Linked DNA regions of Homo sapiens. The protein of the gene in region 1 purifies or fractionates together with the protein of each later gene. This does not show direct contact. Each region holds a gene or a part of one and is shown on either strand. Other genes may lie near its edges.

What was found.
Region 2: the proteins of H3C6 (region 1) and CHAF1A purify together in Homo sapiens (affinity purification with western blotting; 5 studies listed by BioGRID, with this or other methods). This does not show direct contact.

The regions. Positions count from the first base shown.
Region 1 is NC_000006.12:26,222,885-26,226,243, forward strand, and holds H3C6 (histone H3.1), read left to right. Parts: upstream 1-2,250; 5' UTR 2,251-2,270; coding exon 2,271-2,681; 3' UTR 2,682-2,732; downstream 2,733-3,359. UniProt on the Homo sapiens protein: Core component of nucleosome. Nucleosomes wrap and compact DNA into chromatin, limiting DNA accessibility to the cellular machineries which require DNA as a template.
Region 2 is NC_000019.10:4,426,599-4,430,349, forward strand, and holds part of CHAF1A (chromatin assembly factor 1 subunit A), read left to right. Parts: intron 1-2,065; coding exon 2,066-2,292; intron 2,293-2,839; coding exon 2,840-3,008; intron 3,009-3,109; coding exon 3,110-3,190; intron 3,191-3,751. UniProt on the Homo sapiens protein: Acts as a component of the histone chaperone complex chromatin assembly factor 1 (CAF-1), which assembles histone octamers onto DNA during replication and repair.

The sequences.
Region 1 (3,359 bases):
TTCTGACTGTTTTATCACATAACACAGATCCTATGGGAAATTGTGTTCAGGTATGGAAATAGTGATGGAAATTACTGATTAATACAAGTGAGCTGCTAAGTTCTTATGTAATCATGTAAATTTTGCACTGACTTCTAAAATAAAGCTTTACACATATTTAGAGATGAGGATTATGAAAGGAACTGAAGGTAGGTTCCAATGGCAAAACACCGGATTGACAGATTTAAGAACACTGGGGAGGAAATAGAACTATGGGGCATAAAGATGGAATTTCCTTAATGGTTCTCACTGACTGTGACCTAAAGTTTATCTTTTGATTTTGGAAACATTTTTTAGATGTAGATATTAACATTCTAATAATAGAAATGAAAAAACTAAAATGAAAATGAGAAAACAGAAGATAATATCAATAAACAGGTCTTGGGCCTCAGAAGATGAGATGTAGGGAGTGTGGAGAGGAAAAGCACAGGGGGTGCATAGCTCTCATTAACAAACGGCCCAGCCCACAAATACGTAATCATATTATACAAAAGGATTTCAGTTCTTCCCTTGCTTCCTATGAAACAATTTTGCCAACATACCTAACCGTTTTACCGTGATTTAAAGTGTACAGAATTTTCTTTTTCTGAAAAGGAGAGAAGCAAGGGACTCATATATATTTCAGATGTGAGATTGAAACGCACGACAATGTGTAATTTCAGTCAAGACTTGCCCACGAGTCCTAAGATAATTCAAATTTGCAAAATAGACACTAACTTGAAAGGTGCAATTGTATCAATCCTGTGGTTAGCAGAATTTTGATGAATGCCCTAAAATAGGGCAGGTTTAACAGAATTCAGGGAATGAGCAGGAATGCACAAAGCATCCTTTGTCTCCTCTCCACTCCAGCTTGCAGACATCCGCGGGCATTTGCGGGCAGTGATAAATTTGGTTTAGCCGTTTCCCCTCCCTGGAGGACGGGGGCTCCAGCATATTCATGATGTCAATCGCCTTGGACTACATGCCAGCGTCATTGCGAACCTGCTACACTTTACAAAATAGCTTTCCAATGAGAAAGAAAACCTACTGGGAAAGAAAAACAAAAAGAAACTAGACCTTGCAACGGGCACGCACGCGCACTATCCCTCTCTGAAATATTTATAGTACGCTTACACAAACGCGAACTTGTAAATCAAAACTCTGCCTGAACCAAAGTAGCCAATAGATTAAAAGTATGTAAATTAGGAATTCCCAAACTGCTCTTTTTATTGGCTAGGAAAAGAACACCTTACAGGGAATCCGATAGGTTAATTCACAATAGTGTTAGGCTGTAATGTCATTCTTTAAGAATCTTTTCCAGTAAACATTTGTTACTTTTTCAAAGTAATTGGGAGCTGTTGAGTGTGGAAGCGAAAACCAAGTTAAGAAGTCCTGTTATTTGGGTGAGTCCAGTTCCTATAAAAGTTCTGTTGGATGTGTCTTAAATTGTTCGGTGCACCTCAGCTCTCTCCCGCAGGGATCCGGAGAAACTGCGCCATTGTTGTCTTACAGAGAAACAACCTTCTAACACTCTCTTCGCCGCCATCTTTTTCAAGATTTTAAATTGAAAATACTTTTTTTGACGGCTCTTGCCATTATGTCTGGACGTTTTAATTTCAACAAAACGAAATAATAGTGTTAAGTTCTTTGAGTCAAACCCGATATTACAGAGGTAGGGATTCCAGGATATTAGAATTTTACTATAACACAAATGAAACACAAAGTTCCTTATGCTTAACAGTGTATCTTAGAAAACCTTGTTTGAGTGAATTAGCCTTGTACTCTATAATGAAACGAGGAATCATTGAGAGATACTTAGGCAACGGATTTTAAATGAGTGAATAAGGAAGGGAAAAACTTCAGGAAAATGCAGAAAAAAGCAGCGGAGATTTTGGAAAAAAAATTCTAAAGCACTTTCTAACGCAAACACATTCGATTTTTTATAGCTAAACAGGATAACAGATCAGTCTATTAAGTTAAATGATCAATGTCTTTGCAGGTCATGGTCTACGTGAAACATCAAAGAAACCTGTAACGGAAAACGACTTGTTTGAAAGAGCCAGTTCTCTATCCAAATTTACCAATCAGAATCTTGCACTGAAAAAATAAACCAATCGTGAATCTCTACGGCCACTTCCGGAATTTAGCAACCGATCACTAACAGGGATCGTCCACAATCCAATCAGAGTGATTCTGTTCCTATATAGAGGGGCAAACCAATCTTCCTAACTCATTTACTTTGCAGATGAACTATGGCGCGTACTAAGCAGACGGCTCGTAAATCCACAGGCGGTAAAGCACCGCGCAAACAGCTGGCCACTAAGGCAGCTCGCAAGAGCGCTCCGGCCACGGGCGGCGTGAAGAAGCCCCATCGCTACCGCCCTGGCACCGTGGCTCTGCGCGAGATCCGTCGCTACCAGAAGTCTACCGAGCTTCTAATCCGGAAGCTGCCGTTTCAGCGCCTGGTGCGAGAAATAGCTCAGGACTTCAAGACCGACCTGCGCTTCCAGAGTTCCGCGGTGATGGCGCTGCAGGAGGCCTGCGAGGCCTACTTGGTGGGGCTTTTCGAGGACACCAACCTGTGCGCTATTCATGCCAAACGCGTGACCATCATGCCTAAAGACATCCAGCTTGCCCGCCGCATTCGTGGGGAGAGGGCGTGAATTGTTTTGAGTACAAACCTTAAATCCAAAGGCTCTTCTCAGAGCCAACCACTTTGTCCGTGAAAAGGGCTGTAATCCTTTGAGACGCATTAGACCACTAAACTGCACTGATCCAAATAGACATTTGAAATAGTGGCATTCAGTTCCCTCGATGCTTCATTTAAATTTCCAAATTTAAGCGCTCCCTCAGGTTTTCGCCTAGGGCTGGGCCTCCCTACGCTGTTCTCCATTGGTTTAGCTGGCTTTGTTTTGCTGTTCAGGCCCTCTGCTGCTTTCTTGTACATTGTTCTCGTTTTCTAAACTCCTGGCCACTTAATTGTACCCTGCTTAACCCATCCTCTTGTTTTCTGGCTCAACGCTCTTTCATGTGGTGGCCTGCATTTTAGGTCTTAACTGCATAGGCTTTCAACGCCTTGGTTTTGCCTTTCCTTGATGTTTATTTGACCTTGCCCGAGGGGCCAGCGCTTTTGATCTGCATCAGGCTGCCTTACTCCACTAGTGTTTTGAGACCCAGCTACTTGCCGGCGACGGTCGGTGCCTTGGGTGCGGTCAACGTTACTCTCTGTGCGCCTGATACTGGTCTAAGGCTAAGGTTATTAGCTGGAACACCTAGACCCGTGGCACTAACACACAGCTCTTGCAGACTTGACAGCCTTGCATAGGTTCTAAACTGCAGGA
Region 2 (3,751 bases), on another chromosome or scaffold:
CGAGTAGCTGAGATTACAGGCATGTGCTGCCACGCCCAGCTAATTTTGTATTTTTAGTAGAGACGGGGTTTTTCCATGTTGGTCAGGCTTGTCTTGAACTACTGACCTCAGGTGATCCGCCTACCTCGGCCTCCCAAAGTGCTGGGATTACAGGTGTGAGCCACCACGCCCAGCTACAGTGTCTTTCATTATACTGAAATTTCTCCTTTTGGCCAGGTGCGGTGGCTTATGCCTGTAATCTCAGCATTTGGGGAGGCCAAGGCGGGTGAATCATCTGAGGTCAGGAGCTTGAGACCAGCCTGGCCAACAAGGTGTCTCTACTAAAAATACTAAAAATACAAAAATTAGCCGGGCGTGGTGGTAGGCGTCTGTAATCCCAGCTGCTCATGAGGCTGAGGCAGGAGAATCGCCCAACCCAGGAGGCAGAGGTTGCAGTGAGCCGAGATTGCACCACTGTACTCCAGGCTGCGCAATGAAGCGAGACTCCATCTCAGAAAAAAAAAAGAGGAGTTGTGATCTTTCAAAAAAAGACCCTGTCTTTTTTTTTTTTTTTTTTTTTTTTTTTTTTTGAGAAGGAGTCTTGCTCTGTTGCCCAGGCTAGAGTACAGTGGCGTGATCTGGGCTCACTGCAACCTCTGCCTCCCAGATCCAAACGATTCTCCTGCCTCAGCCTCCTGAGTAGCTGGGACTACAGGTGCCCACCACCATGCCAAGCTAATTTTTGTTTTGTTTTGTTTTGTTTTGTTTTTGAGATGGAGTCTTGCTCTATCCCCCAGGTTGGAGTGGTGCAGTGGCACGATCTCGGCTCACTGCAACCTCTGCCTCCCAGGTTCAAGCAATTCTCCTGCCTCAGGCCCAGGCTAGAGTACAGTGGCGTGATCTGGGCTCACTGCAACCTCTGCCTCCCAGATCCAAACGATTCTCCCGCCTCAGCCTCCTGAGTAGCTGGGACTACAGGTGCCCACCACCATGCCAAGCTAATTTTTGTTTTGTTTTGTTTTGTTTTTGAGATGGAGTCTTGCTCTATCCCCCAGGCTGGAGTGCAGTGGCACGATCTCAGCTCACTGCAACCTCTGCCTCCCAGGTTCAAGCAATTCTCCTGCCTCAGGCTCCCAAGTAGCTGGGACTACAGGTGCATGCCACCGTGCCCGGCTAATTTTTTGTATTTTAGTAGAGACCGGGTTTCACTGTGTTGCCCAGGCTGGTCTCGAACTCCTGAGCTCAGACAATCCACCCGCCTCGGCCTCCCAAAGCGCTACAATTACAGGCGTGAGCCACCGCGCCTGGCCTAATTTTTGTATTTTTAGTAGAGACGGGGTTTCACCATCTTGGCCAGGCTGGTCTCGAACTCCTGACCTCAGGTGATCCGCCCTCCTCAGCCTCCCAAAGTGGTGGGATTACAGGCATGAGCCACTGCCCCTGGCCTAATTTTTGTTTTTAGTAGAGATGGGGTTTCACCATGTTGGGCAGGCTGGTCTCGAACTCCTGACCTCAGGTGATCCGCCTTCCTCCGCCTCCCAAAATGGTGGGATTACAGGCATGAGCCACTGCCCCTGGCCTAATTTTTGTTTTTAGTAGAGATGGGGTTTCACCATGTTGGGCAGGCTGGTCTCGAACTCCTGACCTCAGGTGATCCGCCCTCCTCAGCCTCCCAAAGTGGTGGGATTACAGGCATGAGCCACTGCCCCCGGCCTTTTTTTTTTTTTTTTTTAAGTGAGGTTTGTTGAGATATAATTTACATCCAATAAAATAAACTCTTTTCAGGACATTTGTGTTGACAAATGACAGGGCCAGCTAACCATAATGAAGATAAACCCTATTTCCATCACTCAAAACAGCTCCCTTGTAGTCTGTCCCCCCACCGCCGGCCCTTGAGACTGCCAATCTGCCCTCTGCCCTGTAGCTCTGGAAACTCGGCTCTGTGGACCCACACAGTGCCTGGGCTTTTGAGTCTGTGCCTTGGCCTTAGCCTGGATGAATCCCACCAGCACCCTGCTGTGTGCGTCCATGGTGCCTCCTTTCTCCCATTGCTCGAAGACCCCATCGGGTCTCTTCTTGATTTCAGACCCTGGCCGGCTCCTGTGGGAAGTTTGCCCCCTTTGAAATTAAAGAGCACATGGTCCTGGCCCCTCGGCGTCGGACCGCTTTCCATCCAGACCTCTGCAGTCAGCTGGACCAGCTCCTCCAGCAGCAGAGCGGCGAGTTCTCCTTCTTGAAAGACCTCAAAGGCCGGCAGCCCCTGAGGTCCGGACCCACGCACGTTTCCACCCGGAATGCAGATATTTTTAACAGGTCAGAGCCTGAGGAGGTCGGCCTTCACCCACTAGTGATGCTGGAGGCCAGCATCCTGAACCCTGGGGTCCCCGGGGTGGGAGCTCTGGGTCCTTCTGTTGCTTGCTTCCTAGTGCCCTCGGGCCCTGGGCTTCGGTGCTGGCTCAGGCCTCTCTCCACCTGGCCTTCCTGTAAGCTCCTGAAGTCTTCCTCTCCCTGTCTTCCCAGCTCCTCGTGGAGGAATCTTATTTCCCTGCTGGTCTCCAGTGAAGGATACCCCCCAACACCTCGCTCTTGCAAATCTCATTCCACAGAACCTCCCTTGCTAAAAATGCTCTGGGGCTGCACCTGGGCAGCTGTCCTCCCTCTCACCCTGCAGGCTGCACCCTCCTCCATCTGTCCCTTCAGTCCATGTTCCTGACCTTTCTTTGGGGACAGGCAGTGCTGCTTTTTAACAAATGCCCATCTTTCTAGAATTGTTAGGCCAGCTTCACAGGGAGGTTCCTGGGAGGTTTGTGAGCAGGTCTGTAAGGCAGCGTGATCCTGAGCCTGGGGTTTTCCTTCTCAGTGATGTCGTCATCGTGGAGCGTGGGAAGGGCGACGGTGTTCCCGAGAGGAGGAAGTTTGGCAGGATGAAGCTCCTGCAGTTCTGTGAGAACCACCGGCCTGCCTACTGGGGTACCTGGAATAAGAAGACGGCACTCATCCGCGCGCGAGACCCCTGGGCCCAGGACACGGTGAGCTAGCCCCAGAGTGCCTCCGTCCCCGTACCTCCTCACTGTGCCCCTTTCCTCCAGCCCCAAAGACAGTTGTGAGTCCCATGTGTTTCTTTTCTCAGAAGCTCCTGGACTATGAGGTGGACAGTGATGAGGAGTGGGAAGAAGAGGAGCCTGGGGAGTCCCTGTCCCACAGTGAGGGGGTAAGGATGTGCCCCAGCTGTCTTCACTCACAGACGGCTTGTGTTTGAGTCTCTGTCCCACAGTGAGGGGCTAAGGATGCAGCCCAGCTGTGTTCACTCACTGACAGCTGGTGTTTGACCTGCTGTGTGGTCTGAAACCTGAACGCACCTCAACATCCAGACTTCCAGCTTCTCTCGAAAAATCTCATCTGGTGACACTCGCCCACGTGGCTGCTGGGGATGGGATCCCGTCCGCATCTGCACCGTGGCCCCACAGCCCCCTCTTGCCTCCTGCGGGCCTGCTGCACACCATTTCCTCCTGACTGCCCAGCTGCTGTGACCTAGTGGGCTTTCTGCCGATGCTCACCGTGTCTGTCGGGAGGCCATGCAAAGCAGATGTTCACAGCTTTACATTTTTTTGTTTCTTTAAGATGGAGTCTCACTCTATCACTCAGGCTGGAGTGCAGTGGCGCGATTTCGGCTCACTGCAACCTCTGCCTCCCAGGCTCAAGTGATAGTCCTGCCCCAGCCTCCCTAGTAGCTGGGATTATAGGTGCGTGCCACCATGCCCAGCCAAGATTT